2 linked regions of the Homo sapiens genome follow. The protein of the gene in region 1 interacts with the protein of each later gene in a pairwise test. Each region holds a gene or a part of one and is shown on either strand. Other genes may lie near its edges. The genes, in order: STMN2 and CCDC85A.

Region 1 (3,834 bases):
TAGCTTCAGGGTTTGCAGAATATACTGTTACTCAACACAAAGTTGGACTAAGTCTCAAAGTTAGCCATTCAGTTGTTGTTAACAGTTCATTTCAGGGTCTCTCAGAAGCTGGGAAACTTTCCATTTTTGCAATTTCTTGTACATTGAAGGAAAGGAAGACACACTTAAGACAGCATTACAAAAGTAATTCATGTTTTAAATGTTTAATTCTGGCAGTCGGGCAGGGCTCTCTGTATAACCTCATTTGGAGATGACAAAAATCTAAACTTGAGGGCCTCGAGCCAATAAGTCTTCCTATTTCTTTACTCAAACATTTTCCCGCAATGGTGCTTTCTTTCAACTGTTTTTCTGGTGTATTCATAAATTCCAGATTCTCTATGGGAAGTAACTTTTATTGATTGATTTAACCCTTGTATAGCACATATAACATGCAAGGCATTGTTCTAAGAACTTTCCACATATTAACTGTGTTAATCACTTAATAATCCTAAGTAGGTTCTATTACAGATATGGAAACTGAGGCACAGAAAGTTGAAGTATCTTACTCAAGGTCACACAGTTAGTCAGATCCAGAATTTGGGCCCAGGCCATCTGGCTTCGGAATCCATCTTTCACCGATTGCTGCTAGTCTCATATCTGTTCCATGTTAGAGGTGAGCTCCCATTGCAGAGGTCACACCTGTGATATCACCATTTTATTTAAACAGACCAGAGATGGTCTTCTCCTTTCTGATCACAGACTCACCTTGAAGAGAAAATACTTCCAAATTGATGCCTAGTTTTAATAGCTTACCTGGGGCTTATTCAAATAATTGCCATGATTTAGGCTTTGGGAGAAAGAGAGCTATGAGGCCGTGTGGGTTGTAACGTATGAGACACATGGCGTTCTGCAGGCTCAGCACAGCATCGATTTCTGGTGGGAACACACTCTGATGACCAGTTCCAGAAATAACATTGACTTAATCTCCTCAGTCCCATCATGGTTAGCACATTTCAAAATGCCTCCTTAACTACTTCCATAGGCCAGAGATATTTAGTTTTAACATTTTGTTGAATAAAATAAATTTACACATTCACATTTAATATAACTATTAGATGTTATTTCAAGATTCTCTTCATATTACCATCAAAGCAGGCAGGCAGGCAGGAGAGAACTGTAGGAAGGTTTTGAATCCCTTGTGAAACATTTTTAATTATCTTTTAATAAAGGAATCAGGCCCTGTCATTTGTCAAGGAGACATTTGCAGTAGTAAAGCTTGTGTTTATAATATCCATTTTTATTAGTCATGATTAAAGATAACATTTGTGTACATTTGTTCTCACAAAACACTTTTATATGAGTGTAAAGGTTAATTAATGCATTTCAGCCATCATTTTGCTGGTCATGTGGAAATATAGCTTCTTTAGGAATTGTACTTAGAGTAGGAGCCACATATTATACTATAAAACCATAACAAAAATATTTTAAGTTTGTTCTCACTTGTTGTTGACCTCCAGAGTAAAATATTTAATACTCTGGAAAGTTATGGGTTTCAAAATTTATTTTATGGCAAGAAATAGATAATTACAGTTCTCATAGAGCACATTTAAAATAATTTATTTTTATAGGGCAAAAATATTGCCTAGGACTGAATGATTTTTTTTTTTTTACAAAGATTGTAAAGCAACGCCTGCAAGAGTGCCCATTTAGCAGTTATTCTTCTGGAATAATTGTATTTTGGATGTTGGAGTTCGCACATTAACCATTAGTACAAGTACCCAATATAACAATAGATCATCAGGATAATAAATCTGTCCATCTTTTAGTTGTATGTCTTTATATCAGGATAAAGAGAATTGAGTGAAATTTATCTAAACCTAGTCCCACAAATACTTTTACAAGAGAGCATGTTAAAGTGTAAATTAAATTTTTATTAGCATTCTACTCTGTCTTTGGAAGTTTTTTTTCCTTATGAAATGCAGCCATAAAGTTTAACTTCCATTAACAAAGCTGCTCACAGTAAACCTATTATAATAATAGTTTCCCAGTTTGGGCTTCCTAGTGAGGAGCAACCTAACTCACACGAAACAACCCCAACTTATAATATATTGACTGTTACAAAACTGAGACCAGAAAATCCCATCAAGATGGTACTGTTATCATTTCCAGACTCTCGGGAAGAACATTAATCATCTCAGGCACTTTTAGGATAGACTTATTGCAGCCTCCCTGGGAACTCTGCTTCAGAACATAATTATTTTTATTAATGCAGAGTTACTTTTTATTTCCAACAAAAATATCTATTGTTATTATTTAAGTCTTACAGCTTTATCTGAGAAATTCCAATTAGCACCCTTCTCATAATAAATATTCAAACACATGAAAAATTACCAAAGTTGTTCTAGTCTTTTAATGACATATTACATGATCCTGCACTCTTGTCACTTTAAAAATTATCTTTTTATTATATTTCTGATGATTTTTTTCTTATATAGTTTTTTAAAAGGAGCAGGCAAGCATAGAAGACTAAAAAATGTTCAAAAGAAAAATTAAATCGCATGATCTATCTATATGGGACCTTGTCATTTTTAGAAAACATTCACCTGCTTCATCCTTTTGAATCTTCATATAATCCCTCTGAGATGGGCATACTATACAAGTTGTCTTATTTAAAGATTGGTAAATTTAAGCTCAAATAATTTATTCAGTGGCAAGCCTCAGAGGCAGACTCGGAACACAGGTCTAATATATATTATATATATATTATAACATATAATATATATATTACATATAATAAAGTTGTGTATATTATTTACCTATCAAAATATTTATATGTAATATATAAATATGTTATATATCATGTATGTGCCTATTTCATACATATATACACATTCATGCAAAATAAGGTTTAGCACTCCCTCCACTGTCCTGTAATAAAACATGCACAGTGAGAATAGTCATACACGAGGCATATTTGTCTTCAGTTTAAAGTCATTGATAGTCAGTGTCACTAACTAAAGTAAAATAGATTGGAGCACCAACTTTGTTCTGAAGCCTGTGCCAGGTATTATGAGAACAAAAATAAAAATGTTCCTCACCCTTGGTGGATTTAGTCTTTTGCAGAAAAAAAGATCCTGTACATGTCAGAAAGTTCAATAGTAATAATGGTAATTTATAACTATAAATGGAAGTCACCATCTCACAATTTCACCATCTTAACAATTTTGTTAAACTGCCCTACAATATTACAAGATAGTACATAATGATACACTAGTAACATCAACTAGGAAGTACCAAGATCCACCAAAAGGCTGAAAAATTTAAATATTTAATGAGTCCATCAACCAATCTGGCCAGAGAATTCTTTAATTAAAATGCTTCCCAAATTTTACTGAGAATCAGCAGCGTTTGAGGAGCTAGCCTCCACCCCCAGAGGTTCTCACTCTATTAGGTCTGAAGCAGGTCCCATGGATTTGCATTTCTAACAAGCTCCCAGGTGGTGCTGATGAGGCTGATTCAGAACCACACTTGGAGTAGACCTAAAACAGCAGTGACCTGTAGGGTCCCCAAGCAGCAGGCCAGGACAGCATGTGAGTTACGTCCTCTGTGGAGCTCTGCAACAAGGCGTCAAGAGGTCAGAGTCTAAGTCCCCATCAGCTCTGCCCTTCTCCACCAGTGCTGCTGGTGCTGCATGGAAGGAAGAGCCCAGAAGGGATTCTGAGTTTCAGTCTTTACTCTTGCTGACGCACCTTGGTCAGGTCAATTTTCCTGTTTGTTCCTCTAATTCAGCATCTGTAAAATAGCCATGTGAACTGCCTTGTCCATATCAGAGGGTCTTTTTCAGACTCAAGGAAA
Region 2 (3,834 bases), on another chromosome or scaffold:
TCTTCTATACATAAATATATATGATAAAGTTTAATTCATGAATTAGACACAGTAAGAGATTAACAACACTAATAACAAAGTTATTATTAGTAAAGTACTATTAAATACAATAAGGGTTACTTGAACGCAAGCACTGAGATGCTGTGACCATTGGTCTGATCATCGAGATGGCCATTAAGTGACTAACAGGCAGGAAGTGTAGACAGCATGGATTCATCCCAGGTGGGATGGAGCAGGACAGCATGAGATTTCCTCACACTACTCAAAACGGCCCACAATTTAAAACTTGTTTATTTCTGGAATTTTCCATTTAATATTTTTGGGCCCTGATTGACTACAAGTAACAGAAACTGAGGCTAAGGGTGGAATTCTGTACTTCTATCTCTTCTCAAACTGTACATGTGTTAAAATTCATGATGACAGAAGAGATTGTGTCATGAAATAAAATACTACTGGTGGGTTTGTTTTCTCTTTGCTCTTCATTGTTTTCCTTTTAAAATTTTTTTGTGTTCCTTTTTGCCTTTTATGTTAAATTCACAGTATGACTGTCCTAAGGCCCTTGACTGAAAACATCTAACTTCTTACTTGTTACAAAGAAACCTACAAAATCTAGTTAGTTTATTATACATGGTTGTGCCATCTCTCAGGCGACTGGGAATGTAAAAGAAATAGAAAAAAAATCCAAGTGATTTTTGTTCTTAGTTTCCTTCTGAGAAGGAATTGAGGCTGACATCAAACAGCAAACTAATAGCATGTATGCCATCTTATCAAAAAAAAAAAGAGGCACAACAAATGTGAAAATGATGACAAGGCTGATTCTTAAAAACCTGTGAAAGTGAGTGTTAGAAGTCTTGAAGGAAAATCAGAAGAGTCCTTAACTATACTTGATGTGTCTATGTGTATTGGAATACATAGTACTTGCATAGTTAAGACTAAGCAAGATTAAACAACTACTCAATTTAAAGTGTTCAGTTATATCCTTTGAAATACATTACTATTTTGCTACCAAGGAAGGTTTTTTGGTTCATTTTGTTTTGTTTCATTTTTTTCTCTCTAAGAAATGGCTAGGAAAGATCATGTTTTATTGATGCTAAGATGTTATTGATGTGGGATGCACCATCATGATATGTAGCATTACAAAAGAAAAATGGTATCGGTTATACCATGCCAGATTCTTGCAGATTTCAGCGATGTTACAAATGGGAAAACAATGTTTTAGTTTTAGTTATTTATTTGTCAAAGTAATTTAGTTATTTACTTGTCAAAGTAATTTAATACAAAGAGAACCCATTGTTTGAAATATGCTGTTGGACATATGCAAAGAATGCAGTAGATCTGTCAATTCAAAAACAGGATTTCTGTTAAATTTCTATATCAGAGAGTGGTGCCTTCATTTACTACTAAGATATAATAGAGGTACCAGTTGCAGCTACTCCTATAAATACAAACTAACATGAATACAGACAGTAGGTAAGACCCTAGGATGGAACACAATAAATGGATGTCAGAACAGTGAGCATCATGTAGAGAATTCTCATGGGAGACTGAGACTTCAGCTGGATTACACAAAGGCATTTACCTGTACAACTTACTCTTAGATGTTACTGATACTATTACAAATAATGTGTCATGAGATTTCCCTGCAGAAACTGTTTCTAACTATGATGTTAGCTGATTTGCAAGGTCAATTCAATGAGAAAAGCTGACATCCTAGCCTAAGTTAATCTCAATATTAGAACACTTGATTTTCAGTTATAAGAATTTGTTTGCTATGCCTTGATCAGAAGGTATTCCTTTTCACTCCCAAATTTATTAAAGCGTGTCCATTTGTCTTTGAATAAACAGAAGTAAGAATGTAGCTGGCAGCTGGAATCCCAAGTATGTAAAACACCTTTGCAGCTGTAGCCAGAATTTTTGCTTTTAGTTTAGAGTTCAGACTAATTATGTAAAGCACTGTCCTGGAGGAAGAAATCTTCCTCAATGCTCCTTTTTATTCTTTATATAAAATTGTATATAATGAACAGAAAGTCACAACTTTGCCCTAGCAATATAAATATTTAAAAATAAACACAATGAATATAATAAATGCTTGTGGATTTCTCCCTGGTTAGATGCAAAGACCTTAATTTTTTCATTTGTAAATGAAGGGGTTCTTCTCAGCTCTTACATTTTGTGGGCTCAGGGGTAAATAAAGGCTTGGGCCCATGTTTTATACATATACAAAATGTTCAAGTCCCAGAATGAAGGACTCTTTCACAGATAAAGGCAGTGAAGATTAAGTTAGTTTTATCCAGTGGTGAAGAGGAGCCCACAGGAAGTGCTGATGGAGCCTCTGTACAGCCACCGTGGCAAGTCATCCCCAGTGAATGTAGAGCTCCTTGATCTGCCATGGTGTGTACTGTGTCCTGCAAGAATCACTGAGCAGTATTTTAAACCCAGTTTGTGAACACAACATTTCAAAGGTATCCTAAGGTAAGAGCCAGTCTTATTATTTTTAGAAAATGCTGCATTATGTGCTAGTTATTATTATTGAGAAGAAAATGCCTCTTCAAAGTTAGTACAAATGGTAGTTAAAGGTCACCTGGACTTTAGGATATTCTTCCGAGCACATGAACAAATGGGAACATTTTTTACAGATCACAGTTAAATCTTTTTCAAAGAATTGCATATAATCTCTTACAGTACACATAATACACATAATGCTAAGCTGCTCACATTGGCTGTCAGTTCCACTGCATGGATATGTGATGTGATGTGAACCTCAAACAAAAATCGTGCTTAAATAAATTTATTTAAATAAATATAGCTGCTGTCTATGAGATTTCATTAACTTTTGAATCCAGTGAGATGGAGTCACTCTGAATAATGTAAGTAGACATTTGTAAATAATGACATAGTAGGGTGTAAAGTAGTTTTAAGGAGTTTTGTATCAAAATAAAAAGGAACACACCTATCTTCTATACATACTTACAAATAAATACAGGTTTTCTCTATACAAAGAATCATCAATTTCCAGAGCTGGATAGAACCTTATGTGTCACATAGGACAACCCCCCTTTTCAGTCAAGGTGTATTGGGTTCACAGAGGTTAGGAGCGTCCTCCTGTCAGGCAGCCAGTGAAGGCCGGGCTTCATAAAATGTAGGCCTATTCAGTGTTCTTTCTAGCATGTGCACAGTGGCTCCCTTAATCCGTTCATACCATTAATATGATTCAGTGTAATTAAGCTACTAAACCTATTTTTATCTTATTGACAAATTCATTTTTTCCAACATTTATCTTAAAAACTAACATTGGATCTGCTTAGCCATCTGAGATTTGTTAGATGTTTATTGCATTCCTGCTTTAAAATAAATGTTCAGTTTTTCTTAACGCCATGGTATACAACATAAATAAAACAAAAAGTGCATTTTACAGGGTCTTCTCCCTGACACATTTCCATAGTACTTGAAAACCATAAAGGTTTATTATATACACACAAATTCCCACCCCTGCATGGAAAATTTATGCTTAACAGAATGTGGTAAGAGAGGGCCTTTTGGTTCAGAGTGAACTGGAGGAGGGTGGATAGGGGGAACTGATAGTTACAGTCATGGTTTTAAAACTGAAATTTTAAAATTGAAATTTGATTTTTAGCCCAAATTCAAAAACCTTGCTTAGCTCTTTCTACTCCATTCATTATCCTTTTCTTGATGGTCACAAAGATTTTTTAATCCAGACATAGTCGATATGTTTATATGCTGCATGTGCAGTGAGGCCTATTCAACTAGAAAATATCTTTAAATGGATGATATAGAATACCTACCTGATGAGTTTATTATAAAGTAAATAGTACT

What was found.
Region 2: the proteins of STMN2 (region 1) and CCDC85A interact in a two-hybrid assay, tested with the Homo sapiens proteins (one large-scale study listed by BioGRID and IntAct).

The regions. Positions count from the first base shown.
Region 1 is NC_000008.11:79,617,434-79,621,267, forward strand, and holds part of STMN2 (stathmin-2), read left to right. Parts: intron 1-3,508; exon of another isoform or gene 3,509-3,529; intron 3,530-3,698; exon of another isoform or gene 3,699-3,771; intron 3,772-3,834. UniProt on the Homo sapiens protein: Regulator of microtubule stability. When phosphorylated by MAPK8, stabilizes microtubules and consequently controls neurite length in cortical neurons.
Region 2 is NC_000002.12:56,344,161-56,347,994, forward strand, and holds part of CCDC85A (coiled-coil domain-containing protein 85A), read left to right. Parts: intron 1-3,834. UniProt on the Homo sapiens protein: May play a role in cell-cell adhesion and epithelium development through its interaction with proteins of the beta-catenin family.